2 separate regions of the Homo sapiens genome follow, and region 2 is linked to region 1. The links come from fine-mapping of genetic effects on gene expression. A gene starts in region 1. The other region holds a variant in brackets. All regions are shown on one strand. Distances are from middle to middle. Region 1 holds the start of KDM4A (lysine demethylase 4A). Region 2 holds the start of ST3GAL3 (ST3 beta-galactoside alpha-2,3-sialyltransferase 3).

The links. PIP is the estimated chance that this variant, and not a neighbour inherited with it, causes the effect.
Region 2: its variant is fine-mapped to the expression of KDM4A in whole blood (TOPMed, PIP 0.98).

The regions. Positions count from the first base shown.
Region 1 is chr1:43,641,998-43,657,892 of GRCh38, forward strand. KDM4A (lysine demethylase 4A) reads left to right here and starts at 8,152. Exons shown (of 22, transcript NM_014663.3): 1 at 8,152-8,255; 2 at 11,140-11,316; 3 at 13,594-13,769. The coding sequence starts at 11,179. RefSeq lists a silencer at 7,919-8,038.
Region 2 is chr1:43,697,280-43,713,174 of GRCh38, forward strand. KDM4A (lysine demethylase 4A) reads left to right here. Exons shown (of 22, transcript NM_014663.3): 19 at 564-734; 20 at 6,338-6,457; 21 at 6,741-6,833; 22 at 6,951-8,239. The coding sequence ends at 7,091. ST3GAL3 (ST3 beta-galactoside alpha-2,3-sialyltransferase 3) reads left to right here and starts at 10,257. Exons shown (of 12, transcript NM_006279.5): 1 at 10,257-10,414. It overlaps KDM4A-AS1 (KDM4A antisense RNA 1), which reads right to left and starts at 10,062. Exons shown (of 5, transcript NR_033827.1): 1 at 9,780-10,062; 2 at 7,074-7,178; 3 at 6,285-6,368; 4 at 5,377-5,449; 5 at 2,445-3,473. It overlaps ST3GAL3-AS1 (ST3GAL3 antisense RNA 1), which reads right to left. Exons shown (of 4, transcript NR_125986.1): 4 at 12,113-12,256. RefSeq lists enhancers at 9,692-10,209, 9,935-10,014 and silencers at 10,145-10,644, 10,675-10,724. The variant T/C (reference allele first, on the strand shown) is at 7,525.

The DNA.
Region 1 (15,895 bases):
ATCACCTGAGGTCAGGAGTTCACTACCAGCCTGGCCAACATGATGAAACTCCGTCTCTGCTAAAAATACAAAAAATTAGCCGGGTGTGGTGGTGGGCGCCTGTAATCCTAGCTACTCGGGAGGCTGAGGCAGGAGAATCACTTGAAAAAAAAATTAGAAAACCCGTTTTTTGTTGTTTGTTTTTGTGTTTGTTTTTGTTTTTTGAGATGGAGTGTCACTCCATTCCCCAGGCTGGAATGCAGTGGCGAGATCTCAGCTCACTGCAACCTCCACCTCCCAGGCTCAAGCGATTCTCCTGCCTCAGCCTCCTGAGTAGCTGGGATTACAGGCCCATGCCACCACACCTGGCTAATTTTTGTATTTCTAGTAGATGTTGGCCAGGCTGGTCTTGAAATCCTGACCTCAAGCAATCCACCTGCCTCGGCCTCCCAAAGTGCTAGGATTACAGGCTCGAGCCACCATGCCCAGCGTAGAAAATAATTTTTTAAAAAATTAAAAAGAATCAGTCTGCTGTGTTGAGGAGACTGCAGGGGGCAAGGGCAGAGATACAGAGACATTAGCAGGCTGTGGCAATTATCCTATTCAGGCTAAGGATGGCTTGGAGCAGGGTGATGGAGTGGAGGTGAAGGGAAGTGTTGAATTCTGGACATATTTTAGGGGCAGAGCAGAACTATGTAAATGTTAATGTCAATGCACCAAAACCACAATTCATACAATAAACTGATAAATTGAACTTCATCAAAACGAAAACTCTTGTGCTTCAAAAGACACTAAAGAAAATGAAAAGGCAAGCCACAGAAGGAGAGAAAATATTTTTAAAGCCTACATCTGATAAAGGATCTGTATCCAAATACATAAATAACTTTTACAACTCAATAATAAGAAGACAAACAACCCAATTAATACATTGACAAAAGGTTTGAATAGACATTTCACCAAAGAGGATATATGAATGGTTAATAAGCACATAAAAAGATGCCCAACATCATTAGTCATTAGGGAAATGCTAATTAAAACCACAGTGAAATACTACTTGGCACCCACTAGAATGGTTATAATCAGAAAGATAGACAGTACCAAATGCTGGCAAGAATATGGAGAAATGGGACTCCTCATGTATTGTTGATGGGAATGTAAAATGGTACAGCTACTTTAGAAAATAGTTTGGCAGTTTCTTAAAAAGATAAACACAAATTTACTATACAACCTAGCAATTATTCCACTCCTTGTTATCTACCCAAGAGAAATGTAAACAGACATTTACACAAAGGCTAGCATGTAAATGTTCATAGCAGCACTATTCCTAATAGCCAAAAAGTGGAAGCAACCCAAACATCAATCAACACTACAGTGGAATACTATTCAATAATAGAAAGGAGGGAAATACTGATGCATGCTACAACATGGGTGACTCTCAAAAAAATTATGCTCAGTGAAAGAAGCCAGACACAAAAGACCACATAGTCTATGGTTCTATTTATATGAAATGTCCAGAAAAGGCAAATCTATATAGACAGAAAATAGATTAATAATTGCCTGGGGCTGGGGGTGGGAATGGAGACTGATTATAACTGGGCACGGGTAATCTTTTTGAGGTGGTAGATTTTATTGAGGTGATGGAAATGTTCCAAAACTGGATTGGGTGATAGTTGCATGCGTTTGTAAATTTATTTAAAAATCATTAAATTATATTATTAAAAAGAACATTGTTAATGATAGCATATATCTAAATGTAAACAATTTTTGTGCATATAAAGCATTTAGCACAGTGTTTGAAATATAACAGCTCAATAAATGTAGTTAACTTTGTTTTGTTTGTTTGTTTTTTGTTTTTTGTTTTTTTTTTTGAGACTGAATTTTGCTCGTCACCCAGGATGGAGTGCAACGGCACGATCTCGGCTCACTGCAACCTCCACTTCCTGGGTTCAAGCAATTCTCCTGCCTCAGCCTCCCGAGTAGCTGGGATTACAGGCGCCTGCCACCATGCCCAGCTAATTATTGCATTTTTAGTAGAGGCAGGGTTTCACCATGTTGGCCATGCTGGTCTCTAACTCCTGACCTCAGGTGATCCACTGGCCTCAGCCTCCCAAAGTGCTGAGATTACAGCAGTGAGCCACTGCACCCAGCTGTAGTTAACTTTTTTTTTTGGGGGGACGGAGTCTCGCTTCGTCACCCAGGCTGGAATGCAGTAGCGCAATCTCAGCTCACTGCAAGCTCCACCTCCCAGGTTCATGCCATTCTCCTGCATCAGCCACCTGAGTCGCTGGGACTACAGGCGCCCACCACCACGCCCGGCTAATTTTTTGTATTTTTAGTAGAGACGGGGTTTCACTGTGTTAGCCAGGATGGTCTCGATCTCCTGACCTCGTGATCCACCCACCTCGGCCTCCCAAAGTGCTGGGATTACAGGCGTGAGCCACGTCACCTGGCCTAGGTGTAGTTAACTTTTTAAGCGAATAATATTGCCATTATGATTACTTATGTCATGCCTGCCATGTGCTCGGCATTGTGCTGAGTGCTGGATAAAGTGAAGCTCTAGGAAAGGAAACCCTGGACTGGGAACATGGCATACACTTTATGCCATGATAGCTTTATTTCCAAATCCTGCTGCCATTGGTGGCAAGTCACTCTAAAGGTGTTCTCCCCTATTCTTTTCCTTCATAGCAAGCACAACTTTGTGGCAATTTTTCTTTTTTTGAGATAAGAGTCTCACTCTGTCATCCAGGCTGGAGTGCAGTGGCTCCATAATAGCTCACTGCAGCCTCGAATGCCTCAGTCTCAGGAGTAGCTGGGGTTACAGGTGTGAATCACACCCAGCCTATAATTTTCTTTCTTTGTGCAAGCACTTGCTTCATGTCTCTCTCTCACTAGATTATAAAAACCATGAGTGCAGGAAAGGGTCTGTTCCACTCATTACTGGCAGGCAGGCAGATTCTGGTAGTCTTTTTGCTGGTGTGATAGAAGAAACAGGACACTGTCTCTGTCCTCCTTCTGGAGCTGCAGCAGTCACCTTACAATCACGAGTTGCACAAGAGGGTGGCAAAAGCCACGTTGCAAAGGGTGCAAGAGAAAGATGGAACATACCTGTATGTTTCATGACTTTGTTGAGCACTGAGCTAAGGCTCACCACCTTCAGACCTCTTATCCGATGAGAAAATAAACTTGTATTTAGCCACTTTTGCTAGGGTTTTCTATTTTTGGCAATGGAATACATTCCTAAACGGTATTAGCAATAAGACCAAAATGATATTCTCACGAGACTTTTGTCTAGTGAGGAAAGATGCACATGTAAACAAATCCATGCATTTGTAAAATACTTGCTTTGTGGAGCTCTGGACAGGGTGAGGTAATGGACTGCACCTGGCTTAAGCAATTAGGTCATGGCTCTTCCACTAACTGAGATAGGAAACCTAGGAGGTACAGCTTATTTGTGGGGCAAGAGTAGCTCTTTGTTGGGTAGGTCAGCTTTAAGTAACTGTAGGACAACTAGGGGGAGGGATCCAGAGACAGCAGGATACATGGATCTGAGCTCCAGGGAGAAGATGTCTGGGATATACAATGGGTGTCATCAGTGTGCACATGAGTGCAGCCTAAGAGTGAAAGTGTATTGAGCTCTTGTTTCAGGCTCTGTGCTAAGTGCTTTGTACCATCATCATCATTTACTGAGCTGACATTTACTGAGCACTTACTACGTGCCAATTAGACTTCTAACTGGTTTACTTCATTATCCCATTACTTCATTTATCTCATTCAATTCTCACAACCCAGAAAGGGAAGTACTATCCCAGTTTTAGTTATGAGAAAACTTGAGAACTAGAGAAATTAAGTAACTTGCTAGTGAGTTGTAGAGCCAGAAACACCTGCACGTGGGCAGCTGTCAAAAAAACAAAAACAGAAACAGAAACAAAAACCCACCTGGGCAACATGGCAAAACTCCGTCTCTACAAAAAAATACAAAAATTAGCCGGGCTTGGTGGCATATGCCTGTAGTCCCAGCTACTTGAGAGGCTGAGGTGAGAGAATCGCTTGAGCCCAGGGGGTTGAGGTTGCGGTGAGCTGTGATTGCACCACTTCACTCCAGCCTGGGTGACAGAGGGAGACCCTAACTCAAAGAAAAAATAAAACAAAAGCACCTAAGAAGACTGTGTAGAATGAGAGAAGAGGGCAAAGGACCTAAAGCTATGAGGACATTAACATGTTTTTCCTTTTTTTTTTAACTAAAAAATTTTAAATTTACTTTTAAAAACTAAGGTATATGTATATCAAAACTTATGCACAACTTTCAAGCATACAGATCAGTTAATTTTCACAGCCGGGCATGTTCATGCTTGGAAATTCCAGCACTTTGGGAGGCCAAGGCAGGAGGGTTGTTTGAGCTCAGAAGTTCAAGACCAGCTGAGACAACATAGGGAGACCCCACTTCTATTTTTTTTTTTGAGACAGAGTTTTGCTCTTGTCACCCAGGCTGGAGTGCAGTGGCGTGATCTCGGCTGACCGCAACCTCTGCCTCCTGGGTTCAAGCGATTCTCCTGCCTCAGCCTCCTGCGTAGCTGGGATTACAGGTGTGCACCACCATGCCCAGCTAATTTTTTATATTTTTAGTAGAGATGGGGTTTCGCCATGTTGGGCAGGCTGGTCTTGAACTCCCGACCTTAGGTGATTTTCCCACTTTGGCCTCCCTAGTGCTGGGATTACAGGCATGAGAGCCACTGCACCCAGCCTCCCAGTTCTATTAAGAATTTTTTGGCCGGGCGTGGTGGCTCACGCCTGTAATTCCAGCACTCTGGGAGGCCAAGGCAGGCGGATCACCTGAGGCTGGCAGTTCAAGACCAGCCTGACCAACATGGTGAAACCCCATCTCTACTAAAAATACAAAATTAGCCGGGTGTGGTGGCTCATGCCTGTAATCCCAGCTACTTGGGAGACTGAGGCAGGAGAATCACTTGAACCTGGGAGGTGGAGGTTGCGGAGAGCTGAGATCACGCCGTTGCTCTCCAGCCTGGGCAATAAAAGGGAAACTCCGTCTCAAAAAAAAAAAATTTTTTTTTTAAATTTAAAATTTTAGTGGCCAGGTGTGGTGGCTCATGCCTGTAATCCCAGCAATTTGGGAGGCCAAGGTGGGCAGATCACCTAAGGTTGGGAGTTTGAGACCAGTCCGGCCAACATGGCGAAACCCCCTGTCTACTAAAAATACAAAAAATTAGCTGGGCGTGGTGGCACACGCCTATAATCCCAGCTACCTGGGAGGCTGAGGCAGGAGAATCGCTTGAACCCAGGAGGTGGAGGTTGAAGTGAGCTGAGATGGCACCACTGCACTCCAGCCTGGGTGATAGAATGAAACTGTCTCAAAAAAATATCTATCTATCTATCTATCTATCTATCTATCTATCTAACCAATAAATAAAAGTAAGTTTTACAATGTGAACACACTAGCATAACCACCATCTAGATGAAGAAATAGAACATTGCCGCTGGGCGGAGTGGCTCGTGCCTGTAATGCCAGCACTTTGGGAGGCCGAGGCAGGTGGATCACTGTGGTCAGGGGTTCGAAACCAGCCTGGCCAACAGGGTGAAACCCCATCTCTACTAAAAACACAAAATTAGCCGGGCGTGGTGGCACGTGCCTGTAATCCCAGCTATTTGGGAGGCTGAGGCAGGAGAATCACTTGCACCTGGGAGGCAGAGGTTGCAGTGAGCCGAGATCACACTACTGCACTTCAGTCTGGGCAACAAGAGCAAAACTCCATCTCAAAAAAAAAAAAAAAAAATTCCTAACACCCCAGAGCATTCTTTGTGCCACCCTTTCCCATCATTCCCTGTCCCCTACCTAAAAGTAACCAGAACATTGACTTTTATTGCTATAGGTTAGTTTTGCTTAGAATATCGACATTTAAAGCGTGCAAAGGGGCTGGGCACGGTGGCTCACGCCTGTCATCCCTGCACTTTGGGAGGCCAAGGCGGGTGGATCACTTGAGGTCAGGAGTTTGAGACCAGCCTGGCCAACATGATGAAACCCTGTCTCTACTAAAAATACAAAAAAAATTAGCCGGGTGTGGTGGCGGGCGCCTGTAATCCCAGCTACTCAGGAGGCTGAGGCAGGAGAATCATTTGAACCTGGGAGGCGGAGGTGGCAGTGAGCCGAGATCGTGCCTGGGCAACAAGAACGAAACTCCGTCTCAAAAACAAAAAAACAAAAAAGCAAGCAAACAAACAAAAAGTGTGCAAAGGGAAAGGTGAGCTTAAAAAGGAAACAGGAAAACTGGTCAGAAAAATGGGAGCATATCACGAGAACTTGATTTAGGCTCCACCTATCACATGCACATACCAATTGGAAGCTAGTGATACACAGTAGAGGGCCCTTGGAAATCATCTGGCAGCACCAGGAAATACAGCAAAATCCAGTTTATGGAACACAGTAACAGTAACTAGCGACTGTATCCATGTCCAGGACAGTGGAGTCTGTGAAGCAACCTGCAGTATCTTGTGCTTAGTGGCAGCAGGAAAGACAGTGGTGGATGAATTCTACCGCAGGATTTGGGTTTTCTTTATGTGTCCTGCAAGTTGGATTCTTCAGACTCGGCACTTTTGTGAGCCACTCAGTATAATCTATTATCTAATACTGTCGATTACCTTACTGGGTAAGGGCAAAAACCCCTATTGTGAAAGACTTGTGGCTGCGTAGCCAACGGCCATTCTTTTTGAAACAGTCATTTCTGTTTTTGAAACTATTTTTTTTAAAGATTTTTTTTTCAGTAGGCATGTACCCAGCCTGAGGCATAAATCATGATTGGTCCATAGCATTCTATGAAATATGTTCTTTTTGCCAACATTCATTAACTCTCATCTTTACAAAATTTGCAAGGCATTATTTTTTCCATTTTATTGATGTGAACTCCCAGGCTCAGAGAAGTTACTAGTTTTGAACACAGGCCTGACTCCATATAGCTCTTTCCAGGGCACTACCCCATTATTCATCCATGGTAATTCTGTATATTTTTTTATGACTCTGGTTGTGGGTATTTTACTTTCCTACTTGACCTTCCCCACTACCCTTGACAATCTGGGAATTCCTTAAGGCGACTCACTACCCCTCAGGAACCGCTCCTAATGACTTCTAGGAAGCCCCCTCGCCCTCCAGAAGTGCCTCTTCTGATTCCCAGGATGCCCCCCTCTCCGCCCCAAGAGCTGCTCCTAATGATCCCCCAAATCCCCGCTCACTGAGGAACTGCTTTTTTTTTTTTTTTTTTTTTTTTAGACGGAGTTTCACTCTTGTTGCCCAGGTTGGAGTGCAATGGCGCGATCTCGGCCCACCGCAACCTCCGCCTCCCGGGTTCAAGCGATTCTCCTGCCTCAACCTCCGGAGTAGCTGGGACTACAGGCATGCAACACCACGCCCGGCTAATTTTGTATTTTTTTTTTGAGTAGAGACGGGGTTTCTCCATGTTGGTCAGGCGGTCTCAAACTGCCGACTTCAGGTGACCCGCCCGCCTCGGCCTCCCAAAGTGCTGGGATTACAGGCGTGAGGGACCACGCCCGGCCAGGAATTGCTTTTTAATGACCCTAAGGAGAGCCTCCCTCATGGTCTGTCCTAATGACCCTCAGGGCAGCTTCCCTTCCCTGTTCAGGCTTGACAGCGAATGAGGGGTTTCCAAGGCCACGGGATTTTGTTTTGAAAACCGAGACACCCAGGACAAACCGGGACAAGACGGTCATCTTTTCAGCACTCCCTGAGCTCGGAAGCTGCCCCTAAGGGCCCCGACACATTTCCACGTTAGGCAAAGAGGATACTCATCCCAAGAAAACTTTGGCCTATCCTTTCGTTAGCGACATCCTATAGTAACCTCACCGCCCTTACCCATCTACCGGACCGGCCCACTTCCAGGTACTAGCTTCTTTCAACCCTGATTAGTTATGGGTGACCAGGAGCCCGCCTATGATTGGCCAGCTTCGCGATCCAGCTAGAGGCTCACTGGCCGCGGTCCCTAGTGGTACAGCGTTTCCTCCCGGCAACAGCCCGAGCCGGCGCTCATAGGCTGAGCACACTGAGGTCGGGACTGGGAGGTGGCTGCGGCGCGTGCTCATTGGCTGGTGTATGGCTTGCAGCCACCCTTGAATTGGTTGACTCTGTACGGCTGCGCAGATGCCGACTTTAGAGGAGGCGGAGTTTCGGCCTTCGCCTGCTGGAAAAGCAGTAGGATCGGCCAGTGGCGACAGCAGGAGCTGAGCCTAAGCCCTGGCGGGGCTTTGGGCTGTAGGTGAGAACTATAGGGTTTTGGAATTCTCGAGGATCATTGCCGCTGTAGCAGTGACCGTGAGTTTTGGTGGGGGAGGGGCGGTGGGGGTGGGTCTTCCAGCGGTGAGTGATCGGCATGTTTCTCGGCCAATAGGAGAAGGAGCTTCCAGAATGGGTTCTGAGATTGGTCCTTTCCAATCTTCAAGGCCAATGGACCTCGGGAGAGGGGGGCGGGTCATCTGGGCCTTATTTTCTTCTTCCTGCGGCCGAGCTTCACTCGCCAAGGCGGCGGGGCCGGGAGGGGCCGAACCTGTGCGCGGTGAGGTTCGGGGACGGTGGGGAGCAGGGTGCGCTGCCTTTGGAGTGATGCTCGCGGGAGCGGCTGCGAGGGAAGGGTGCGGGAGTCCGAGGGGGTTGTTAGCAACAGCTAGCTTTATTGAGTGGGTAAGTACCGGGCCTAGTGCTTAGTGCTTCGCTTGCATCATCTGAGCTAATCACAGCGACCCTGCAGGGCAGGGGGTTGGGATCCCCATTTTACAGGTGGAGAAACTGAGACTCAAGTCAGCTCACACAGCCAAGGTCACATAGCTAATAAACGGCAGAGACCGGATCTGTATTCAGAGTTTTGACTTCGGAGCCGGTGTTCTTGAATCTCTAGGCTTTGTTACTGATTGGGAGGGAAGGTGTCATGAAACGGGAGCTTTCCCCAGGGAACAGATTTGGGGGAAGGGAATCCTAGGGTTGAAGAAGGGATGAACAATTGAGGTGAGGGTGAGGAAATCAGTTTTTCAACAGTTACCGATTGCCTACTCTGTGCCATGCATTGTTCTAGGCATACAAAGATGAATAGGGGCAGAGGCTGATGAAGCCCATTAGGGCCCCTTTGAAGGCCCGGGGAAGGGCCCCAACATTGTATTCACATGATTGTATGTTTTTATAAAATGTGCAAAAGTAAGATATTTTGGATTCATTTTTCTTTTTAAGAGGGTCTTCAAAATTAAATAAACTTCGGGTTTCTCCACACTTGGAGCTGCCCTTGCAGAGGACTTAGTCCAGGTGGAGATGAGTATGTAAGCAGTATAGAGCAGTGGAAGGTGCACTTAAGAGTGGGCTGTGGGCAAATTTCCTGGTATGTAAAACAGGGAGAACAGTATACCTGCCATGCAAAGTTTCTGCCAGGTTCATGAAAAGCGCCTGTTTAGAAACACGCCTTATTTTTGATAGGAAGCCTAGGAGATACGGGTAACTGGATTTGCCTTCTCTCCTACCTTACACAGTTGTGCTCCGTGTTCTGCTCCCAGGCCTGTAACTAGATTTCTGGTGGATTGGAGGCGCTTTTCTCCTTTCTGAGCTCTCCAACTCTCAAAGAGAGTCTTGGAGCTGAACCGCCATACCTTTGGGCCCCAGATAGGGGGTACGGAACTGCTGGACCCTCAGTGAGGAGGGTGGGTAAAGGAAAGGACATACTGGTGTTCCTTCTAGAATGGCCTATTTTCATTGATATGCTTTGTCTTTTTTCAGTTGAGGTGGTCTATTGCGTTACCGAGCTGTGGGGATGCACCCACTTAGCTGAAGTTCTCATCTAAAAACAAAGTATTTATTTTGCTTTCTCCAATCAGTTATGAAGTTTTCCGTGTATTGCCAGTTTAAATTTTGTCCTTTGAGTTCTGGGTACAGTGCAACTGAACTTGTCTGTAGCTTGATTTCATTAAGTACTGCTGAAACTGCATCTTAGTTTCAACAGAACAGTTTCACTTTAGGGTTTTAAAATTATGTTACTAATATCAAAGGGCTTTTAAATCATGTTACTAATATCAAAGTACTTTTGAACCCTTAAGTTTTGTTATCTTGTAGCCACGTAACTTTTATTAGGTATCTGGTTTAGCTGTGCCCTAGGGAGGAGCCTTGGCCTCCCAAAGTGCTGGGATTACAAGGCGTAAGCCACCGCACCCAGCCATGGGTGGCTTTCAAGTTGTAGTGTATTCTGTTTAATACTCTGAAAAGTGATTAGCAAGGTGTTAATAAGGGAGTAGCTTGAAAGGATAAGGGTAAAATATGGGCATTTTAGCTGTACTATTAGGACCAACAACTAAATAATTAGTTTCCTTTTTTTAGCTGAAACAATTTTCTTTTTTTTTTCTTTCAAGAACAATCCTATTGCAGTAACAATGTCTCTGTTGAAATAAGGTTTGAATCCATGCAGTTTTGATACATCAGGTTCTTTTTAAACAGAACCTTTTCGATCTGTATTTCTAGTTTATTTAAATAACTTTTTGTTGTTTATTTAAAAAAAATTTTTTTTGAGACAGGGTCTCACTATGTTGCCCAGGCTGGTCTCAAACTCCTTAACTCAAGCGATCTGCCCACCTCAGTCTCCCAAAGTGCTGGGATTACAGGCTTGAGCCACCACACCCCCACCCTAAATTACTTTTCTTTCTTTCTTTCTTTCTTTTTTTTTTTTTTTTTTTGAGACGGAGTTTCGCTCTTGTTGCCCAGTCTGGAGTGCGATGGCGCAATCTTGGCTCACTGCAACCTTTAGCCTCCCGGGTTCAAGTGATTCTCCTGCCTCAGCCTCCCGAGTAGCTAGGATTGCAGGTGCCCGCCACCATGCCCAGCTAATTTTTTGTATTTTTAGTAGAGACAGGGTTTCACTGTGTTGGCCAGGCTGGTCTCAAACTTATGACCTCAGGCGATGCACCCGCTTTGGCCTCCCAAAGTGCTGGGATTACAGGCGTGAGCCACCGTGCCCGGCCCCTAAATAACTTTTCTAGAGGTAGATTCCAGGTGTGAAGTCTTAACTGTGTCTTTTGAATTTCTATATTATCTTTTACTGTTTTCAGAGTTGATGTTTCCAGCACTTAATTTTAATTTTTATATTATTTTATACTCTTAATGTGTTTCTTCAGATTCCTGTCTGACTAAAGGGACCTCAAAAAGGAGGGAAAATGGCTTCTGAGTCTGAAACTCTGAATCCCAGTGCTAGGATAATGACCTTTTATCCAACTATGGAAGAGTTCCGAAACTTCAGTAGATACATTGCCTACATTGAATCCCAAGGAGCTCATCGGGCAGGGCTAGCCAAGGTAAGGAGCTGGGATTGTTCAAATGGTTTTGTTACCTAGGGCAGAGCAGTAAGATTTTTTTCCTACATTTGGGCCGGAACTGTGTTTTACTGAAAGTTGGGTGGGGTGATGACTTTAGTGAATGCGGTTCTATTTGCAAGTTAATTCCCGTTGTTAACATCAGAAGCATCTCTGCTTTTAGGTAGGAAGAGAGCTACTTGGAATCTTCAGAAAGGGGGAGGTAAAGAGCTAGTGTCTCCAGGCCTGGCTGCTGTTGTGCCTCAGCCCTCTTGGTGGAGCTGGGTGCTGTGGTGTTATTGAACTGCCAGTGAGTGCTTATGCCATCTGACTTCTCTTGCTCTCATTTCAGTCTCATCCAGCACTCTAGTAGCAATTTGGCTTCCCATGTGGACTTTCTTCAAGGGGAGAGAATGCACTGGCCAGCCAACATGAGTATTCTGGTCCTTGTAATTTGAAATTGGTTTCTGGTTTGTACTTCTTTCTCCTGTGAGTTGGATTCGTTATTTTTCCTGAGTCAAATCAGCTTTTCATATATTCTGTCACAATCAGGTTGAGTGCTGGAAGCTGAAAGAACTGCATTTCTGGAGAGATCCTCAGGAAACTGAGAGGCAGGGACCTCAGTCTAAGCCAGGAGGAAATTTTTTACACCATTTTATGTTGTTTGAATTCCCTACCATATGTGCTTGTTACATTTTCAATATGAAAAGAGAAAGCAAGAACATTGGCTACAAAGCTGAGGACCAGTCTTGGACCCTGGTGCCTCCAGAGACTTGAGACGACCACATCCTCTTTCTTATCTGCAGATACGGCTACTGCTGGGTTAATAACAGCAGGCGGGAATAGCAGGGCCTGCAGTGCAGTTTTTCATAGCACATTGCTTTTTTTGGTTGTACTTTATTAGATTTAAAGTTACCAAAAAAATGTCGGTTATTACAAGTTAAATATTTCAAACGCAGATAAAGAAAAGGCTGATCTTCATCCACCTTCTCCAGTGCCGTCTCCTTAAGTGGTATTAGCTCCCTCCACACCTTTTTCTCTGCTCATACAAACATACACACATATAAAATAGTGTTATTTGTTTTGTTTTTAAAAGAGAATGGCATCATGCCATATACATTCCTGTGTTGGTTCGTTCATTCTTTTTTCTTTTTTTTTTTCTTTTTTCCTTTTTAACAACATATATTCCTCCCTCTAGGTCAATTATGGATTCAACTCATTCTTCTTTTTTCTCATGTCGACTGTCTTGTTAATTTATTACTATTGGAATGGGTAATTTGATTATGTGAGTAAAAACAGAATGCTATTGGAAGGTAGCTAATGTAGAGTCTTGCTCCCTTTCCGTATTTTCTTATATGTCCTTTCAGTGTTGCCTTATGCAGATGCTTGTGAGTGTGTGTGTGTGTGTGTGTGTGTGTGTGTGTGTGTGTTGTTTTCTCCCTTGTTACATAAAGTAAAACAATACTCTCTAATTAAAAAAAAAAAAGCTGTATAGTATTCCATAAAGCAGATCTATCTTACTTAACTATTCAAGATTAGATTTTTTTTGTTTTTTTTTGAGATGGAGTTTCGCTCTTGTTACCCCAGCTGGAGTGCAATGGCGCAATCTTGGCTCACTGCAACCTCTGCCTCCGGGTTCAAGCGATTCTCCTGCATCAGCCCCCCAAATAGCCGGGATTATAGTTGAGTGCCACCACACCAGGCTAATTTTTGTGTTTTTAGTAGAGATGGGGTTTCACCATGTTGGCCAAGCTGATCTCAAACTCTGACCTCAGGTGATCCACCTGCCTCGGCCTCCCAAAGTGCTGGGATTACCGGCATGAGCCACTGTGCCCGGCCTCAAGATTAGATTTTTAAGAATGTTATGCTTCTTTGTAATTAAACTGTAATCTAGTGTGTGAAAAAAGGAAATTCTGTACAAGTATAGAGTTGACCAAATCAAGTAAAGTTGTGTTTGTGATTTTTTTAAAGAGAGCCCTGGGCTAGGAGATTGAGAGAGAATCAAGTCTTTAATCTCCTTTCTTGGTGTCCAAATAAGATACTGAAGCTGGGAACAAGTATTACTTACCTTAGGTTGCTGCAATTAGGCAGCTGGTTGGTGGCAAAAGTGGATCAGGGTTAGCATGCCTGTGACTTACTGTGTTTTGGTGAATGTGGGTAAATCAAAGTAACTGTCTAGTAAAATTGACTGTTAGGTTGGCTGGTAACTACATGCTTCCTGGACTCTGACTGGCTTGCCAGGTTTCTCATCTGTCTTTTTGTTTCTTGTGTTCCCTTCAGGTTGTTCCTCCAAAAGAGTGGAAGCCACGAGCATCCTATGATGACATTGATGATTTGGTCATTCCTGCCCCCATTCAACAGCTGGTGACGGGGCAGTCTGGCCTCTTTACTCAGTACAACATACAGAAGAAAGCCATGACTGTTCGAGAGTTCCGCAAGATAGCCAATAGCGATAAGTGAGTGGAAACCCTTTCTTACCTGACATAGCACCTAGGACCCTGGTGTCTCATCCTCCTAGCATCTCCAGGACTGCTGCTGTCCTGATGAACAGTGTCTTCAGCAGGATGGCTCTGTTCTAGCTGTCTCCCTTTCTGCTTTTTTTATGGAAGCATTCCCTCCTCTCAGGACTGTGTCCCAGTCTAAACCTGTTCCTGTTCTTATAACAACAAATCCCATTGTTTTTCCATCAGAAGTAGAATCATTTTCTGACTCTAAAGTTGCAAGGAGAAAGTTGGATGTGGTGCACAAGGAGCTTTTGCTGGGTATTATCAACCACCTGCTCATCAAAAGTGCTTTAGTTCCACTTCCTCTCTCTCGGGATGCTCTGTGTTTAATTGTGCTGGAATTTCTCACTGCCCATCCAGCCTGCTAGCTCATTTCTGTTTTGACATTAACAGTGTGAGTAAACCACCAAGCTGGTTGCTATTTTCTGTCACTCCTTCTTTCTCTGTACATTCCTGTCTCTTTTAGAGATATCTTTCTTTGTGTAGGCCTGTTTTCAGTTCTTCTCTGCTGTTGGTTTTTTTTTTTTTTTTTTTTTTTTTTGAGATGGTGTCTCACTTTATTGCCCAGGCTGGAGTGCAGTGGAGTGATCTTGGCTCACTGCAACCTCTGTCTCCCAGGTTCACGTGATTCTCCTGCCTCAGCCTCCCAAGTAGCTGGGACTACAGGCACGCGCCACCATGCTTGGCTATTTTTTGTATTTTCAGTAGAGACAGGGTTTCGCCACATTGGCCAGGCTGGTCTTGAACTCCTGACCTCAAGTGATCCTCCTGCCTTGGCCTCCCAAAGTGCTGGGATTACAGGCAAGAGCCACCACTCCTGGCCCTTCTCCGCTGTTTTTAATGTTTAGTTCTCATTTTTCCTGAGATTCACAGAGAATAAATTTTGTGTTTCCTTGTTCAGCTCTGACTACTCCATCTTTTTTTTTTTTTGAGGTGGAGTCTCGCTCGTTCCCCAGGCTGGAGTGCAATGGTGCAGTCTCGGCTCACTGCAACCTCCACCTCCCGGGTTCAAGCAATTCTCCTGTCTCAGCCTCCCGAGTAGCTGGGATTACATACAGGCGCCTGCCACCACGCCTGGCTAATTTTTGTATTTTTAGTAGAGACGGGGTTTCACCGTCTCTACTGTCACCCAAGTTGGAGTGTAGTGGTGCAATCATGGCTTACTGCAGCCTCGACTGCCCAGGCTCAAAATGATCCTCCTTGCTCAGCCTCCCAAGTAACTGGAGGTATAGATAGGCATGTGCTACCGCGCTCAGCTAATATTTTTTATTATTTGCTGCCCAGTTTGGTCTTGAACTCCTGGGCTCAAGCGATCCTCCTGCCTCAGCCTCCCAAAGTGCTGGGATTATAGGCATGAGCCACTGCATCCGGCTGACACCTTAACTCCTTTTATTTATTTTTTTTTTTGAGACAGAATCTCGCTCTGTCGCCAGGCTAGAGTGCAGTGGCGTGATCTCGGCTCACTGCAGCCTCCGCCTCCTGGGTTCAAGCAATTCTCCTGCCTCAGTCTCCTGAGCAGCTGGGATTACAGGCGCCCACCACCACACCTAGCTAATTTTTGTATTTTTAGCAGAGGCAGGGTTTCACCATGTTGGCCAGGATGGTCTCGATCTCTTGACCTCGTGATCCACCCGCCTTGGCCTCCCAAAGGGCTGGGATTACAGGTGTGAGCCACCGTGCCCGGCCAACCTTAACTCTTAAAACATCTACCTTGCTGGCCAACCTGCTGACCGATGAGAGAATTTACATAAAGGCATGTTGAAGAAATGTGGGGCTCTGCAGGTGAAAGGCTGTATCCTTCCTGCCATCCTTATTGTCTGATTTTTGCTACACATGAGGAGCAAACTCACCTGCCTTCTGTTTCTCACATGGAATTCAGCCAGGGGCTTCAGTCTCCTCAGCCTTTTTTCCCTTTTTGTTAAGGCTTTTTCTTTTCTTTTTTTTTTTTTTTTTTGAGATGGAGTGTCGCTCTGTCACCCAGGCTGGAGTGCAGTGGCACAATCTTGGCTCATTGCAGCCTCCGCCTCCCAGGTTCAAGTGATTTTCCTTCCTCGGCCTCCCGAGTAGCTGGGAGCCCG
Region 2 (15,895 bases), 55 kb after region 1:
GCATCAAGGGCAAGTTCAGAATGAGAAGGGCATGGTTGAGGGCACCAGAGATGGCAATGGCAGGGCCCTTGGAATGGGGGACAGTTTGTTGTGTGTAGCTGGAGACATCTGGGAAACCTAAGTCTTTGTGCCCTAGCCCTGAGGGTAATGCTGCAGGTGCTAAGATGTGGTGCAGCTTTGCCTGGCGGCCCAGGCCTCAGGGCACCTATTGAGTCTCTCCTTCGATACTTTGATGTCAGTTCTTGGCAAGATCAGAGGTCCATGTTGTTGTTCAGAGAGTTCTGGGTAAGATAATATGGTATAAGGGCCAGTTGTGGACTAGCTAAATTTATGGGAAGAGCTAAATTTATGGAGGAAATGTGGTACTGGTCTCTTCCAATGTCCTGGCTGGGATGGTGGGTATCTGGAAAGGCTTGTTTTAGCTCCCATCTCTTCTCTCCTTTTTACTTTTACTTTCCCATGCTTATCTTTCCCTGATAAGGAGGAACTAATTGATCTTCATCTCCATATGCCAGGCCTGCAAACTCCACGTGTGAGTAACCAAAGCCTCTGTTTTTTTCCAGCGTGCCAAGGGGGCCTTGCAAAGCATCACTGCAGGCCAGAAAGTCATTAGCAAGCATAAGAACGGGCGCTTCTACCAGTGTGAAGTGGTCAGGCTCACCACCGAGACCTTCTATGAAGTCAACTTTGATGATGGCTCCTTCAGCGACAATCTTTATCCTGAGGACATAGTGGTAATATCTGCAAGGAGCTTCTCAGGCAGTTTGGAATGGGGGGATGTTTCTAAGGTCTGGCTGGCAGACTGTGTGTGTATGCCTGCTTCTTCTAGCCAGGTCCCTGGTCCCATCACCATGTCCTCAAACAGAAAGAATCATCTGTACCAGTCTTTCTTTGCAAAGAAAACTGCGTGCTGCTAGGGTACCCTATTTTCCCTAGAAGTACCTGGGAATCAGTATTTTCTGCAATTCCTTGAAACCTGCATCTGTTGCCGTCTAAATTATCCTTGAGGGCATTCTAGTGCAATAGGAGAGCCCAGGCTTTGGAATCAAATATGCCAATACCAGCTTCATTGCCTAGTAGCTGTGTGATTTTAGGGGAATTATCCAACTCTCTTTTCTATCAGGCCCTCTTAGTAGATGTATAGAATCTGCTTTTGTCTCTTCACAGTGGGCTTTAGGGCTAAGTAGAAACTGCCTGGAGACACCCTTGGCCTGTTTATGTTATCAACACCTGAGACACAGTGGCCCCACATGGACCCAGTCCTAGGTCTGGCTTGGTAGTGAGGACTTAGTTCAGGTTTCCCCTACCCCCACCTTGCCTTTTCAGTTGGTAGACTGACCACCAAAGTAGAGAGGAATGAAACCATTTTTTCCTTTAACAAATCAGGTATTGTCCCATGTTTATACCACATTAGCCACTCAGTTGCTAAAAGCACATTCATTAGTTATAAGGTAGACTTATAGAAAAGGCGACATTAGTAGTACTCATAGCAGTAGCATAGCTATCATTTATTTATATTTTATTTGTGAGACAGGGTTTCACTCTGACGCCCAGGCTGGAGTGCAGTGGCACAATCTCAGCTCACTGCAGCCTCAACTTCCTGGATTGAGGTGATCATCCCACCTCAGCCTCCCTGGTAGCTGGGACTACAGGAACGCACCACCACAGCCGGCTAATTTTTTAATTTTTTGTAGAGACGGGCTTTTGCCATGTTGCCCAGGCTGGTCTCAAACTCCTGGGCTCAAGTGATCTGCCTACCTTGGCCTCCCAAAGTGGTGGGATTACAGGCGTGAGCCACTGTGCCTGGCCTTATTTTTTTTTTTTTTTTTTTGAGAGAGACCAGGTCTCACTCTGTCACTTAGGCTGGAGTGCAGTGGCTGTATCATAGCTCCTGCAATCTCAAACTCCTGAACTCAAGTGATCCTCCTGCTTCAGCTTCCCAGGTAGCTGGGACTACAGGCACATGCAGTCACACCTGGCTAATTTTTAAATTTTTTGTAGTAACAACGGTCTTGCTTTGTTGCTCAGGCTGGTTTCGATCTCGCAGCTTGAAGCGATCCTCACATCTTGGGCCCCCAAACCACTGGGATTACAAGAGTTTGAGCCACCATACCTGGCCCTTGCTGTAATTTATTAAGCTGGTACAGTATGCCAGGCACTATGCTAAGTGGTTATTTCAAGTATCTCTTTATCTTCTCATACCCACTGTGAGAAGGATGTGGTATTATCTCTAACTTACAGTGGTTTCAGGACTCCATTTTCTACAAGTTAGAGACCCCAAAGAGCCTGTGTTTCTCTGGGTTACATCTAAACGTATTTATTCTTATTAGAAATTAAAGCAGATTGATTTAAAATAATCAATTTTTTTAGATTAAAAATAACTTTTCTAAAACAAAAACAAAAGATTGCCATTTCCCTGCAATTTTGCAAATCTCTTTAATGTCTTTTTTTTTTTTTTTTGAGATGGAGTCTTGCTCTGTTGCCCAGGCTGGAGTACGGGAGTACGGTGGCATGATCTTGGCTCACTGCAGGCTTCACCTCCCAGGTTCACGCCATTCTCCTGCCTCAGCCTCCCGAGTAGCTGGGACTACAGGCGCCCGCCACCATGCCCGGCTAATTTTTTGTATTTTTAGTAGACATGGGGTTTCACCATGTTAGCCAGGATGGTCTTGATCTCCTGATCTCGTGATCCGCCCGCCTCGGCCTCCCAAAGTGGTGGGATTACAGGCGTGAGCCACCGCGCTGGCCTTAATGTCACTTCTTGATTCAATCTATTGTGATACACTGTTTAGGTTCAAGTATAGGAAGAAAATTCAGCCTTGCGTAGATATGTAATTGGAAAAAGGAGTTTGTTTTTGTTTTTTTAAAATAGGGTTTCACTCCAGTCACCCACGTTGGAGTGCAGTGCAGTGATCTCAACTCACTGCAACCTCCACATACCAGGCTCAAGTGATTCTGCTGCCTCAGCCTCCCAAGTAGCTGGGACTACAGGCCCTTGTCACTGGCGCCCAGCTAATTTTTTAATTTTTTGTAGAGATGGAGTTTTGCCTTGTTGCCCAGGCTGGTCTCAAAACTGGGCTCAAGCAATCCGCCTACCTCGGCCTCCCAAAGTGCTGGGATTACATCTGTGAGCCACCACTCCCAGCCAAGGGAGGTATTTTAATAGTCTTTCAGGTAATTGTGTTTATTATTCTCTGATATCCACCAAAACTCAATGGAAGTAACAACTTTTTTTGTTTGTTTGTTTGTTTTAAGAGATGATGTCTTGCTTTGTTGACCAAGCACCTCCCGAGTAGCTGGGACTACAGGCATGCATGGCTATTTGTAGAAATGGGGTCTTGCCATCTTGCCCAGGTAGTCTCAAACTCCTGGGCTCAAGCGATTTCTTTTGCCTCAACCTCCCAAAGTGCTGGGATTACAGGTGTGAGCCACTGCTCCTGGCAGGTTCTTAAAAGTTAGTTGCAGTGTGGAATCTGAAAGGTCAGTGAACGTTTCATACTGTTAACACTAAAACCCATTGGTCTCTTCTGAATGGATCTTTCACCCATGCATCCTTTTATAACATCATACTTTGGTCATTTAGAAAATATTGGTGCACTGGCCTATCGACAGCCTCCAAATGTTGTTAAATATTATTATAAATTTAATTTTTTTTTTTTTTTGAGACAGAGTCTCGCTCTGTCGCCAGGCTGGAGTGCAGTGGTGCGTTCTTGGCTCACTGCAACCTCCACCTACCGGGTTCAAGCGATTCTCCTGCCTCAGCATCCCAAGTAGCTGCGACTACAGGTGCACGCCACCACGCCCAACTAATTTTTGTATTTTTAGTAGAGAGGGTTTCCCCATGTTGTCCAGGATGGACTCAATCTCTTGACCTCGTGATCTGCCCGCCTTGGCCTCCCAAAGTGCTGGGATTACAGGCATGAGCCACCACGCCCGGCCATAAATATTTTAAAAATTACATTTGTTAGTATCACTAATAATCAAAAAACTTGGAATTTTGGGAAGTTTCAAGCTCACAGTTGTGAATGCCGCTTCTCTGAAATGCTAATATTTGTTTGAAAGCCTGAATTTTACTATTGGCAACAGATACTGACTTTTGTTTTCCTTGACATGACAGGCGTTCACTTCATGCATTTTCAAGAAGATGTCTGCCAGATACCTAAGTCTGAAAAGCCATAGTTTGTCAGTCACTTTTTTCTTTTTTTAAATTTTCATAGAGTTTTTTAAAGACAGGGTCCTGCTCTGTTGCGCAGCACCACTGCTGGAGTGCAGTGGCATGGTCATGGCTCACTGCAGCCTCATCCTCCCGGCCTCAAGCAGTCCTCAGCCTTCCGAGTAACTGGGACTATAGGCGTGTGCCATCACACCTGGATAATTTTTTATGTTTTGTAGAGATGGGGTCTCCCCTGTGTTGCCCAGGCTGGTCTTGAACTCCTGGGCTGATGCGATCCTCCTACCTCTGCCTCCCAAAGTGAGGGATTACAGGCATGAGCCACCATGCCTGGCCTAGTAATTTTTTTCAAATAAAACTGGTATTCCATGAACAAAGCAGCTAGTGTAATTCACAACTCAAACAACACAGATAGATTTCTTTGAGACAACCAAAAGTGTCTTATGAGGACTTAACACATGTACTCAATGATTAAGATTTAACAACATTAATAATTTTTTACTGCTTCATCAAGGGATATTGTTACATGCAATCTAGAGTTTTTGCTCTTTTCTCCTAAATTATGAGTGTACAGTGGTGAAAAATGCAATAACAACTAGTAGAGCTTAGGGTCAGTGCCTTGATCTGTGCTCAGGTGCCAGCAGTTGTACCTATCCTAGGTAAATGACAACACAGTGACAAAGGCTAATAGTTTAATATTATAAAAATAGCCATGTCTCACTTGCTCCCTGACAGTGTCTCAGGAACCCCTCAGAGGTTCACAGACCACATTTTCAGAAGTGCTGTTATAGGAGGTGGAACTGAATTGCAGAGAACTTAAACAATTTATCAAATATCAAACATTTGAGTAGTTAAATCTTAGAACACCTCAGATATTGGGTGTAGGAGGCTGTAGTTTATGCCTAATTGTTAGATTGATACAAAATGTATTTACTGATTACCTATTCAGTAAATGAATTGTCAATAAGTAGGGAACTGTTTCCACTCAATAAATGAACTGTAGCATGATTGTAAGAGCAGATGTGAGCATCCACATCCTTTTAGACTCACTGCCCTGCCCCTCTCTCATTTTTTAAGCCATGTCCCTAAGGACCTTCTCCCAGGTATACCTATCAGACCTTTCATTCAGCCAATATGCTGAATGAAATATCCCCCCGTATACCAAGCCCTATGCTGGGAATACGATGAGGACTTGGGGTACTTACCTGCTTCTGGAAGGAATAAAAGTTCTGAAGTACTTTGCCAGGTCCCATGGTAGGTGACTCTTTTTCATCTTTCCTGTTAAGAACATATTTCTTGGTTGGGCACAGTGGCTCATGCCTGTAATCCCACCACTTTGGCAAGCCGAGGCAGGCAGATCACCTGAGGTAAGGAGTTCGAGACCAGACTGGCCAACATGGTGAAACCCCGTCTCTACTAAAAATACAAAGATTAGCTGGGCATGGTGGCACGTGCCTGTTGTCCCAGCTACTCGGGAGGCTGAGGCAGGAGGATTGCTAGAACCCAGGAGGCTGAGGTTGCAATGAGCCAAGATCAGGCCACTGTATTCCAGCGTGATCTCAGCTCTCTGCAAGCTCCGCCTCCTGGGTTCACACCATTCTCCTGCCTCAGACTCCCGAGTAGCTGGGACTACAGGCGCCTGCCACCACACCTGGCTAATTTTTTGCATTTTTAGTAGAGATGGGGTTTCACCATGTTAGCCAGGATGGTCTTGATCTCCTGACCTGGTGATCTGCCTGCCTCAGCCTCCCAAAGTGCTGCGATTACAGGCATGAGCCACCGTGCCTGGCCAAAAAAAACACATGTCTTATAGTTGAGTATGGTTCTAGTATTTCTTCATGGCAGAGCCCTGGAGAACCCGCAGGGGAACAGTTGAGGGAATGTAAGAAGGACTCTTGATTCTGGCACTTAACTCCTGTGTTTACTAAGTTTGTTATAGCTGGATTTTTTTTTTTTTTTTGGTCACCTAGAAGCAGGAGAGGGCAGAGATAGGGGCAGACTTTGACTTAGCAAGGTCTTTAACTGTTAACATTTTTCAGCCCAGAGAGCTGCCTTGCTCTCTAAAACAGTTACTTTGTCCTGGTTCACTCTTCCCTGAGTAGAGGACAGTTACCTTTGTGTGCAGGTGGACGTTCCTTTCACCCTCCTTCCTTCCTGTTTCCTCAGAGCCAGGACTGTCTCCAGTTTGGTCCTCCTGCTGAAGGGGAAGTGGTCCAAGTGAGATGGACAGACGGCCAAGTCTATGGAGCCAAGTTTGTGGCCTCCCACCCTATCCAAATGTACCAGGTATCCAAAGTTCTACCTTTCTAGGGAGTGGGGGGTGCTTGATTAATTCTGTGCTTCCTGTTGGGCCAGAGGCGAGTCTTTGCTCTTAGGAGAACTAATAGGTTGGTAACCCTTTCAGAGCTAGGGGTCTGCCCTGTTTCCAGTCTGCCAAATGTGAAGTAAGGTAGTTGTTATTTTAGTGTTCTAACTCCTTCCTTTGACTGTAGGGGACTGCCACTGTGCATGGTGGACCAGGGAAAGAGTCAGGGATATCCTAGCCAAAAGGCCTTTGTTTCCTTGGTAGGTGGAGTTTGAGGATGGCTCACAACTTGTGGTTAAGAGAGATGATGTATACACACTGGATGAAGAGCTTCCCAAGAGAGTCAAATCTAGACTGGTGAGTATTTTCTGTGTCCCCCCAGTTCCTGTCTTGGAGGGAGGGAACAAGTCAAGGATGCATCCCTTTGTATTGTTCCTGGGGTAGCTGACACTTGGCTTGCTTATTCTTCTATAGTCAGTAGCCTCAGACATGCGCTTCAATGAGATTTTCACAGAGAAAGAGGTTAAGCAAGAAAAGAAACGGCAACGAGTTATCAACTCAAGATACCGGGAAGATTATATTGAGCCTGCACTATACCGGGCCATCATGGAGTAGGTGCTTCCAGGGTCCAAGGGATTCTCAGCCATCCAGGCAAGAGCACTCTGGGTTCCACAGCACAGCAGACATGGAACGCTGAAGTCTCTGAAAGTGAAGTTGTAAAAAGAAAAGGAATGAAATAACCGACCCATCATCTTCTCACCCACCCTCATTGCATTCCGCTGTAGTGAAAGGACGAGCCATTTCTGGGCACGTGGCAGCAGTCGCTGATCTCCCAGCTGAGGGGCTGAGCACTGGAATGCTGTGGCTGCACTGGCCCCAGTCCATAGAGGGGTCAACTATGCTGGCTGGACTGGCTGCCTTGTTCCTGGCCTAGGACTTAGCTTCATAACTATCACCTGCACCGACTAGGCTGAGGTGCTGGTACTTGCCCCAACCCCTACTTTTGTATTTATATGTGTGTGTGTGTGTGCGTGCGTGCGTGCGTGCG[T/C]GTATGTTTGGTCTGGACCAGCTTCTGCCAGCCCCTGGCCTTTACTTTCTTCCTTGCCTATGCAGGGCAAACAAAATGTGAAATTCTGCCCTCAGCTGAGCTGAGTAAGGGCTCCTGGGGGTTGGCTGGAGATGGGTGTGGCATCTGTCCAGGCCTGGAACCGTCTCAAGACAGTGCTGGCAAAGCTGCAGTATTGAGATGCTAAGGAGCTGATGCCACCTCTTTGTCTTCCCCTAAAGGAGAACATGGGGATAACATGGGTGTGTGCCCACAACACTCTAGGTGCAGAGCCCCTGTGGCAAAGTATTACAGGGTGTGGGTGGGGATTACCCTGAATCGGGGATTTTAATGATGGAAGCAGGCAGAGCCTGGTGGGTGATTCTGTCAACAGAAAATTGCAATCATGCAGGGGCTGGGAGGGTTAGGATGAAAAAACTGGGGCCATTGGAGGCCCACTGTAGGTGGGAGGGAGCTGATTTTGGGGTGGGGGGTGGGACTAGAGGGCAATACTGAAGGGGTTAAACAGGTTTTTGCTCCTCAAGAATTTGTTTGCCTGGGCCCAGGATTGGAGGGCTTCACACCAATACCCTGTGTATACAAGAATCAGATTTATAATACTTCCCCTTTTTTGTTACGTATGAACACTATAAACCAAATTATTTTGAAAACTGGTGCATCACCTTGTCCTTAGCAATAAAATGTGTTGAGCAGAGGATTGGCTGTCTGCCCCAAGGAGCCCACGTGGCCCACGTCAGGCTGGGGGGTGTATCTAGAGTCATAGGCTCTGGAGCGGGGCTGTGTATTTTAAGACAAATCAGTAAGGCATTCCCTAGGAAGTTCCAGAGAGTGGGTCCTTTGCTTGTCAAGCTCTGTATTAGGCCAAGTATGGTGGGTCATGGGAGCAGGGACACTTCTGGCTCTGAGCACCTCTTTGTTGTGCTTGCTCTGCCTTAGAGACGGGCAAGATGAGGTAACAGAGGAAGCACCAGACCAATGAGTCCTCTCAACAGAGTATCTCTCACTGCTGCCCCATTTGATACATCTTTGTTGAACTGGCCTAAGTTCATGCCAGCATCTGTGCTCTATACAAATTGTGGAACCAGTGGGAAGGATGGGTGCATTTTAGGTGCTTGAAAAGCAAGGGACTCAACCTCCAGTGGGATCCTCAGATTGCTCTCCGAGCTGTCTAGTTGGTGAGAAGCTTCCCTGGAGGAAGACCCAATCTCCTTTGGCTGGTAGATCCCTGAGGTCAAAGTGGACAAGGATGGGGAACCACAGAGCAGGGAGGGGGGCAATGAATAGGTGCAGGACTTGGGTGCCCCGGAGCTGCACCGGCTGGCCCTTAAACAGCCAGGCACTTCCTGTGGCATGGCCCTGTCCAGGTGCAGGAGAGGCTTAGGTCAGTTCAGCTGCTCTGGATGCTTCCTTGTGTCCCTGGGGGTTGAGAGGTGGTTGCTACTTGGTATCTCATTGTGGAGAAAGGGAGGTGCAGGAGGTGATCTTTTCTATGTCAGCTCCCTCCTGGGGCCCAGGGAGGGAAGTTGGCCTTTTTTTTTCTTTGCCCACACTCCACTTGGGGATTCCCAGGGGATGTAGCAAGGGAGGCTGGGCAGAACCAGGCCTTAGTGGATTGGTGAGAGAACACTAATCCATACATCTTTGGAAGAGAGGAACACTTCACCAGCCTTTTTACACAGGATCCCTACCTTTCTCGATGACCCCACTGCCTCCAGGGGTGGGCGCTGGGTTTAATCCCAGCAGTTTTTACTCAACAGCTGACCAGTTTTCCAGAAACTGCACTTTTTTTTTTTGGTCAACCTAATAACTCTTAGGAAACTGCAACTCAGGTGATCCAAATCACACAGACCGGCCCGTTCTCTCCCCTACTGGCTGCCTATGCAGTCGGGTCGACCTCAAGAGAACTGGCCCCAGCCAAAAGCGGCACCTCCCGGCCTGCCAGTCCCTTCCTGCCTTAGGCAGCTCCTCCCAGAAGCCTTTTTGTAGGGCAAACTGCCTTCCCTTTGTAAGGTAGGGCCTTTGGATCCAAGGTTGCAGTTTAAAGACCACCCCGACTTTGTTGAGGAATTAAGTTTTAAATTCCGCCCCAGGCGGATAACACCAGGGCTCAGCCGCAGGAATGAAAAAGGAGTGGGAGGGCTGCAAAGTGTACGTGGGGCTTGGAGGCCTTGTGCCACGCGCGGACTAAAAATGTTCTACGAGTCTCTTAACGCTCACCCCCGTGCCCCCTTACCCACCAGGGCCCACGGAGGTCCGAAGCTTTCGGCCTCAGTGAGCGGAATGGGTGCGCTCACGACCTGGAGGGCGAGATGAGATGTCCCTCGGCGTGAAGTGGCCGTGACTACCCTAGCACTTTGCGTTCCCCGCGCGGGCGACGAAACACGCTCTCGAGGGGAGAGAGCCGTGCGTCCTCTGGGCCGTGAAGCCAGGGGAAGAGGGTTCCTCTAGACAGCTCGATGTGCCCGGGAGAGACACCCACGCTGAACCTGCAAGCTGGGGTGCTCCACCAGCGCGAACCTCTCGCCCCGCACTCGCCGCAGCACTGCTCTCGTGGTAGGCGGGGTGGGCGGGACGGCAAATCCGCGGCTCCTGCGTCTATTGGGCTGCTCGGGGCAGCGCAGCTCCGCATTGGCCAGGCCCTCGCTCCGCCCGGCTTCCGCGAGCCCATTGGTCGCAGGCGCCCGACCGGGTCGCGGCCGCGCGCTCCGCCCGCCGCTGCGTCCCCACTATGGCGGCGCCCATGCAGCCCAGCGCGTTGTGGGCTCCCGCCGGGGTCCCCCGCGGCTGTCGCCGCCGCCTACGCCGCTGCCTCCGCCTTCCTGCCCCGCGTCGGGCCGGGCGCCACCTCCCCCCTGCCTCCCTCTCCGCTGTGGTAAGGGCCTGCCCAGTGCGCTTCGGGGCGCGATGGCTGACCGCGAATAACGGTCGCCGCTCCGCCCCGCCCCTCCCCCGCCGGCCGCGGGTCCCGGGCTGGGCGGGGCGCGGAGCCCGCGCGCTAGTGCCCGGGAAGGCGGGGTCGGGGCACGGCCCAGTCGTCCTTCGGGCTGGGGGCCCAGTACCTGGATGACCTCTCCTGGGTGGGGGCCGCCGAGCCTGGGGGAAAGGCCGGCCGGACGCAGGCCAGGAGGTCTGAGATCATCTCCGTGTGAAACCCCGCAGCGCTGCGCACCTTGGCGCAGAGCACGGACACCGTCATTCGGGCCCTGCTGTGGGAAAAGGAAAGAAAAGTCCAGGGAGCGCCTGAGCGGGAATCGGCAGCGTTTGGGTAGCGGTTGTCATTGCTTACTGCTCTAGCGGGGGCCAGAACTGGGGTCAGTTTGATCGGCAAAGTACGCCTCTCTTGCTTCCTTTCCTTCTGGCACTTTCCCCCGTTGTGTCCTCGGTGCTTTTGCTTGCAAGAGAAAATATCTTAGTGAGGAGGGCAGGTTTGGTTAGGAGAGTGTCCCATGAACATTTTGGATTCCTTTTTACAACAATGTCCATTTTTATGATTCCTCAGTAAGCCTCATTTATGTTTCCTTCACGTATGAGGAAGGAGTGAAACCTGATAACTGAATGTAATTAATTGAGGGAAGGACCAGTGAAGGCGGCTATTACCTCAGAAAGTAAAATACTCAAACTTTTCAGTGGATGTACTGTGAATTATAGATAGCTGGACATTAAGGTAGGAAAAAACTCTTATTAGGTTACTAAAAGTAAGATAGTCCCCATGACAAATTAGGTTGTTTCTAAGGCAGAATTATCTTGTAGAGATGATCACTGAAATGTTTGGTGTACTTTCAAGTCAACAGAGGATTAAAAGGAAGCTGGCACAGAAATTTATAGCCAAATGATACTTTCAAATAATCTCTTAAGGCAATACAGCTCCTCCTATGATTAGAGATTCTTAAGGATATTTTGAGATATTAAGTGGTGAATCTCTCCATTTCGCGTGTCTAACTGTCTAACCATGGTTTAATAAAAATAAAATGTTAACGATGAAACAAGACATTCATGTTCTCAGAGACTAACAGACTTTGTATCAATCAATGGAACGCCTCTTGAGTACATATTTTATGCAAGGCATTGACTGAGGGGAAACTCAAAACCATTTAAGATAAGAAACTTGCTCTAATGGGCCTATAATATACTTGAGGGAATAAAGCACACACATGACAATGATAACTGTGATATGGTCTCTAGAATTCCAAGATGGTAGGTACTCTGAGAAACCGAGAAAAGGAGAAATCCATGTGTTTGAGGAAGGTTTCACAGGGAAGCTGAGGCTTGAATTGGGTCATGAAGAGTGGGTAGCCGGCTGTATGAAGGGGAAGAAGTGAGCAGATGAGAAAGTGAGGATGACAAAGGTGCAGGGGAACCTGAGATGCTCATGGGTGGTTCCAGGGGGTTTCTTAGCAGAAAAAGCAGGATATGAGGTTGCACAAAAGGTAGGTTGATGGCATTAATCCAAGAGGTACCTTTGTCCTGTGTGGTGCAAAGAGTAAACAAGTAATAGAATTTACTTCAAAGGAAGCTGTAGCTAACTATCAGGAATACAGTAACACTTTACTTGTCATTGTCACTTTTTCTTTTTTCTTTTTTTTTTGAGACAGGGTCTCCCTCTGTCACCCATGCTGGAGTGCAGTGAATGTGGCTCTCTGCAGCCTTGACTTTCTGGACTCAGGCGATCCTCCCACCTCAGCTTCCCAAGTAGCTGGGACCACAGGCAGGTGACCTGGAGAATTAAAAAAAATTTTTTTTGTAGAGACAGGGTCTTGTCATGTTGCCCAGGCTGTTCTTGAACTCCTGGGCTCAAGAAATCTTCCCACCTTGAGTTCGAGACCAGCCTAGCCAACATGATGAAACCCCGTCTCTACCAAAAAAAAAATACAAAAAATTAGCCAGGCGTGGTGGCAGGCGCCTGTAATCCCAGCTGCTCGGGAGGCTGAGGCAGGAGAATCGCTTGAACCCGGGAGGTGGAGGTTGCAATGAGCCGAGATCGCGCCAGTGCACTCCAGACTGGGCAACAAGCGTGAAACTCGGTCAAAAAAAAGAAAGAAAGAAATCCTCCACCTCAGCCTCCCAAAGTGTTGAGAATATATGCGTGAGCCACCACACCTAGCCCATTGTCGCTTTTCTGATTCACCTCAGCTACTTGGAATAACAGTTCTCTCAACCCAGAAGCGGCACCTCAAGTTTATTCTTACTTTTCTTCTTTTTTTCTCCCCGTGTTTTTGGTTGGGTGCCAGGTCTTGTTGACCCTACTTCCACACTGTTTCTGGCATCTGCTTCTATTTTTGAGTCAGAGCCTCCCTCTGTTGCCCAGGCTGGAGTGCAGTGGCCCCATCTCAGCCCACTGCAACCTCCACCACCTGGGTTAAAGTAATTCTCCCGTCTCAGCCTCCTGAGTAGCTGGGACGACAGGCGTGTGCCACCACACCCGGCTAATTTTTGTATTTTTAATAGAGACGGGGTTTCACCATGTTGGCCAGGCTGATCTTGAACTCCTGATCTCAAGTGATCTGCCCACCTTAGCCTCCCAAAGTGCTGGGATTATAGGCATGAGCCACCATACCTAGCCTGGCATCTGCTTCTTTTCACTCCTACTGTCATCACACTGATCTGGGGCCATTGGACCATTCCTGTGAATTACCACAGAAACCCCCTAACATTTTTTTCCTTCCATCCATCATGTGTATTGCCATCACTTCCAAGTTTGTCACTTCTCCAGCCAGGACTTTGAATGGCTCCCCATTATCTGTTGCGTTAGGCACAGACCAGCCTGGCATGGGCAATATGGGCAAACTGATTTCTTGCCATTCTGTTATATTTTCCAGGTCAATGGAACTATTTGCTCTTTGTGCTTTGCTGTTTGTGCTCTGTATCTTTGCTCATGTTGGCTTTTTCTATCTTAAATAGTCTCCTTGACTTTAATTGTTCTTACGTATGTTTCAGGGCCATTTGATACGGAACTTCCTTTGTGAAGCTTATCTGTACTTTTTCTTCCCATCTAGATGAGCTGTCTCTCTTCTTTAAGTTTAAACCACCATAACATTAGAGTCTGCCTTTTTGCGATAATTGCCTTAAATCCTGCTTCTACCCACAGTATAAGACTGAAGCTATTTCAAGACATAGACTGTCCTCTTCATCATCCAACTTTGTACATAGTAGGTACTTGGCAAATATATTTTATATTGAAAATAGCTTTGAATCAGGATGGATGCAGAGATAATTCTTTATCCAAACAAAATGTTTATCATTAAAATCTATAAATAAAGTTGTTTATGTGAGAGAATCCCTTACTGAGAGATCTGTATTGACATAGATAGCTTGGATTAGGCTGCACTAACAAAAACCTCAAGACTTCAGTGGCGTAACAGAACAAAACTTGACTTCTCATTCATGTGACGTGTCCAGCATGAGTGTACAGGAAACTCTTCACAGTTACTCAGGAACTGAGGCTGATAGAAACTCCATCTTAATATGGTACTGCCATGACCATTTTGATTAAATGAAAAGATAGTGGTCAAGTGGACACTGGCTTTTCAAGTTTCTGTCCCACTATGGCACATGCCACTTTCATTCACATTTTCATTGGCCAAAGCAAGTCACATAGCCATGCCTAACTTTAAAGAAGGTTAGAGAATTTCAGTGTTAGCATATGTCTGGGAAGCAAAGAGCCAGAAATATTTGGTGCATAGCACTAATGACTACTACCTCATCTGGGGTATCACAGCCCATTGAAGATTAGAGGTAGCACATCAGATGGGCTGCTAGAGACAAACATTGACAGTAGCAAGAAATAATAGCTCTAACCAGGCATGGGGTAATGGTAGATTCAGAGTCAAAACTCTTCCAAGCACTTGTAAATGCTCACAGGCCAAGGGTGTTGATACAAGGGCAATCTGTTACATCCGAGTTATGACACAGTCATTCCTGAGGAATGTCTTTTACAAAACTTACTATGTTACAGCATTCTTAGTAACAAATACAGCAATGGTTCTGAGATAGCAAAAAATAAAAGTTAAATTATATTCAGGGTATTCAATTTATAAGAAATTGGGAAATGTGTAATAATTTTAGGTGCATTTTCACTCAAATGGTTAAAATTAAAAAGTAATCTTAGTTTAACCTTACTGGTTTAATTGAACCTAGCAAACTTGGTATTTGGGGAGGAGGTTTCACTTTTGACAGACAATAGAAACAGTGCTGGTTGGAGCCCTGGTTCAGGAAACAGATTTGGGTTCAGATCTTGGCTCTTCCACTATTAATAGTTGTCTGACATTAAGCAGGAATCTTATTTTTGAGCCTAAGTTTCCTCATCAGTGAAATGCATGGGGCAGTTGTGAGAATTAAACAAGTCAGTTCATGTAAAGTGCTTTGCAGAGCACGTGGTTCACAGTAAGCACTCATGATCACAGTGCTTCTAACCAGCTGCAGCAAGGTTAGAAGAAACTTGAGAAATCAGGTAAGGAGCCCTCAGAAATACAGGTAGAAGGGTTCCCCTGGATTTCCCCACCTTTTTTCTCCCTTGGACAGCATCCCTACGATCTCTTATTTTCACATTTTTCATATTTTATGTGAGTGTATACATTTCTTTCTCTCCTACTAGACCAGGTGCTCTCATCATCCACAAATGTGTACTGAACATAAGCTCTGCCAGGCTCTGTGCTAGGTGGTGGCTTGATAGGTATGAAGGACATGTCCCTGGCCTCAAAGAACCTCCAGTCTAGTAGGACCAGAAGCAAGTAAAGAATACATTATAACCAGAAGCAGAATACATTATAACAAGGGCTGTGGTTGAGGGTCTTGTGGGATCTTCTAAAAGCGCACCTGATATCGTGGGGAATATGAGTACTGGTTTTCTAGGGAAGTTCACATCTGACCTACATCTTGAAAAATCAGTAGTTATTAGCTGGGTGGATATGGGTTTAAAAGGCTTTTCACACAGGCAACAATGTGTGCTGTGGCCTAGAAGCAAAGAATGTGGCTACATCCTAAAGACACTGGTGTGGCAGGAGTATGGAGCCTGTTGGGGGAGTGTGTGGGAAATGAGGCTGCAGAAATCGGTCAAGAATAGATTGTGAAGGTCTTTGTGAGTTATGAAGTTAGAGCTTTATCCTGAAGGTGATTAGGTGCCACTGAAGGATTTGAAGATAGAAAGTGACTACTTTGTCAGCTTTGCCTTTCAGGAACATCACTGTGTGGAAGAGGCAGAATAGTGAATAGCTATTTCCCTCACATGGGGAGTTCTGAGGTTTGCATCCATAGTACCATGCCTACTACACAAGAGTCATAAAATATTTATGCAGGATGAAGGTTAGAATGAGGTAAGACTGGACGGAAGGATAGTTACGCTGGTGCAACATGTGAG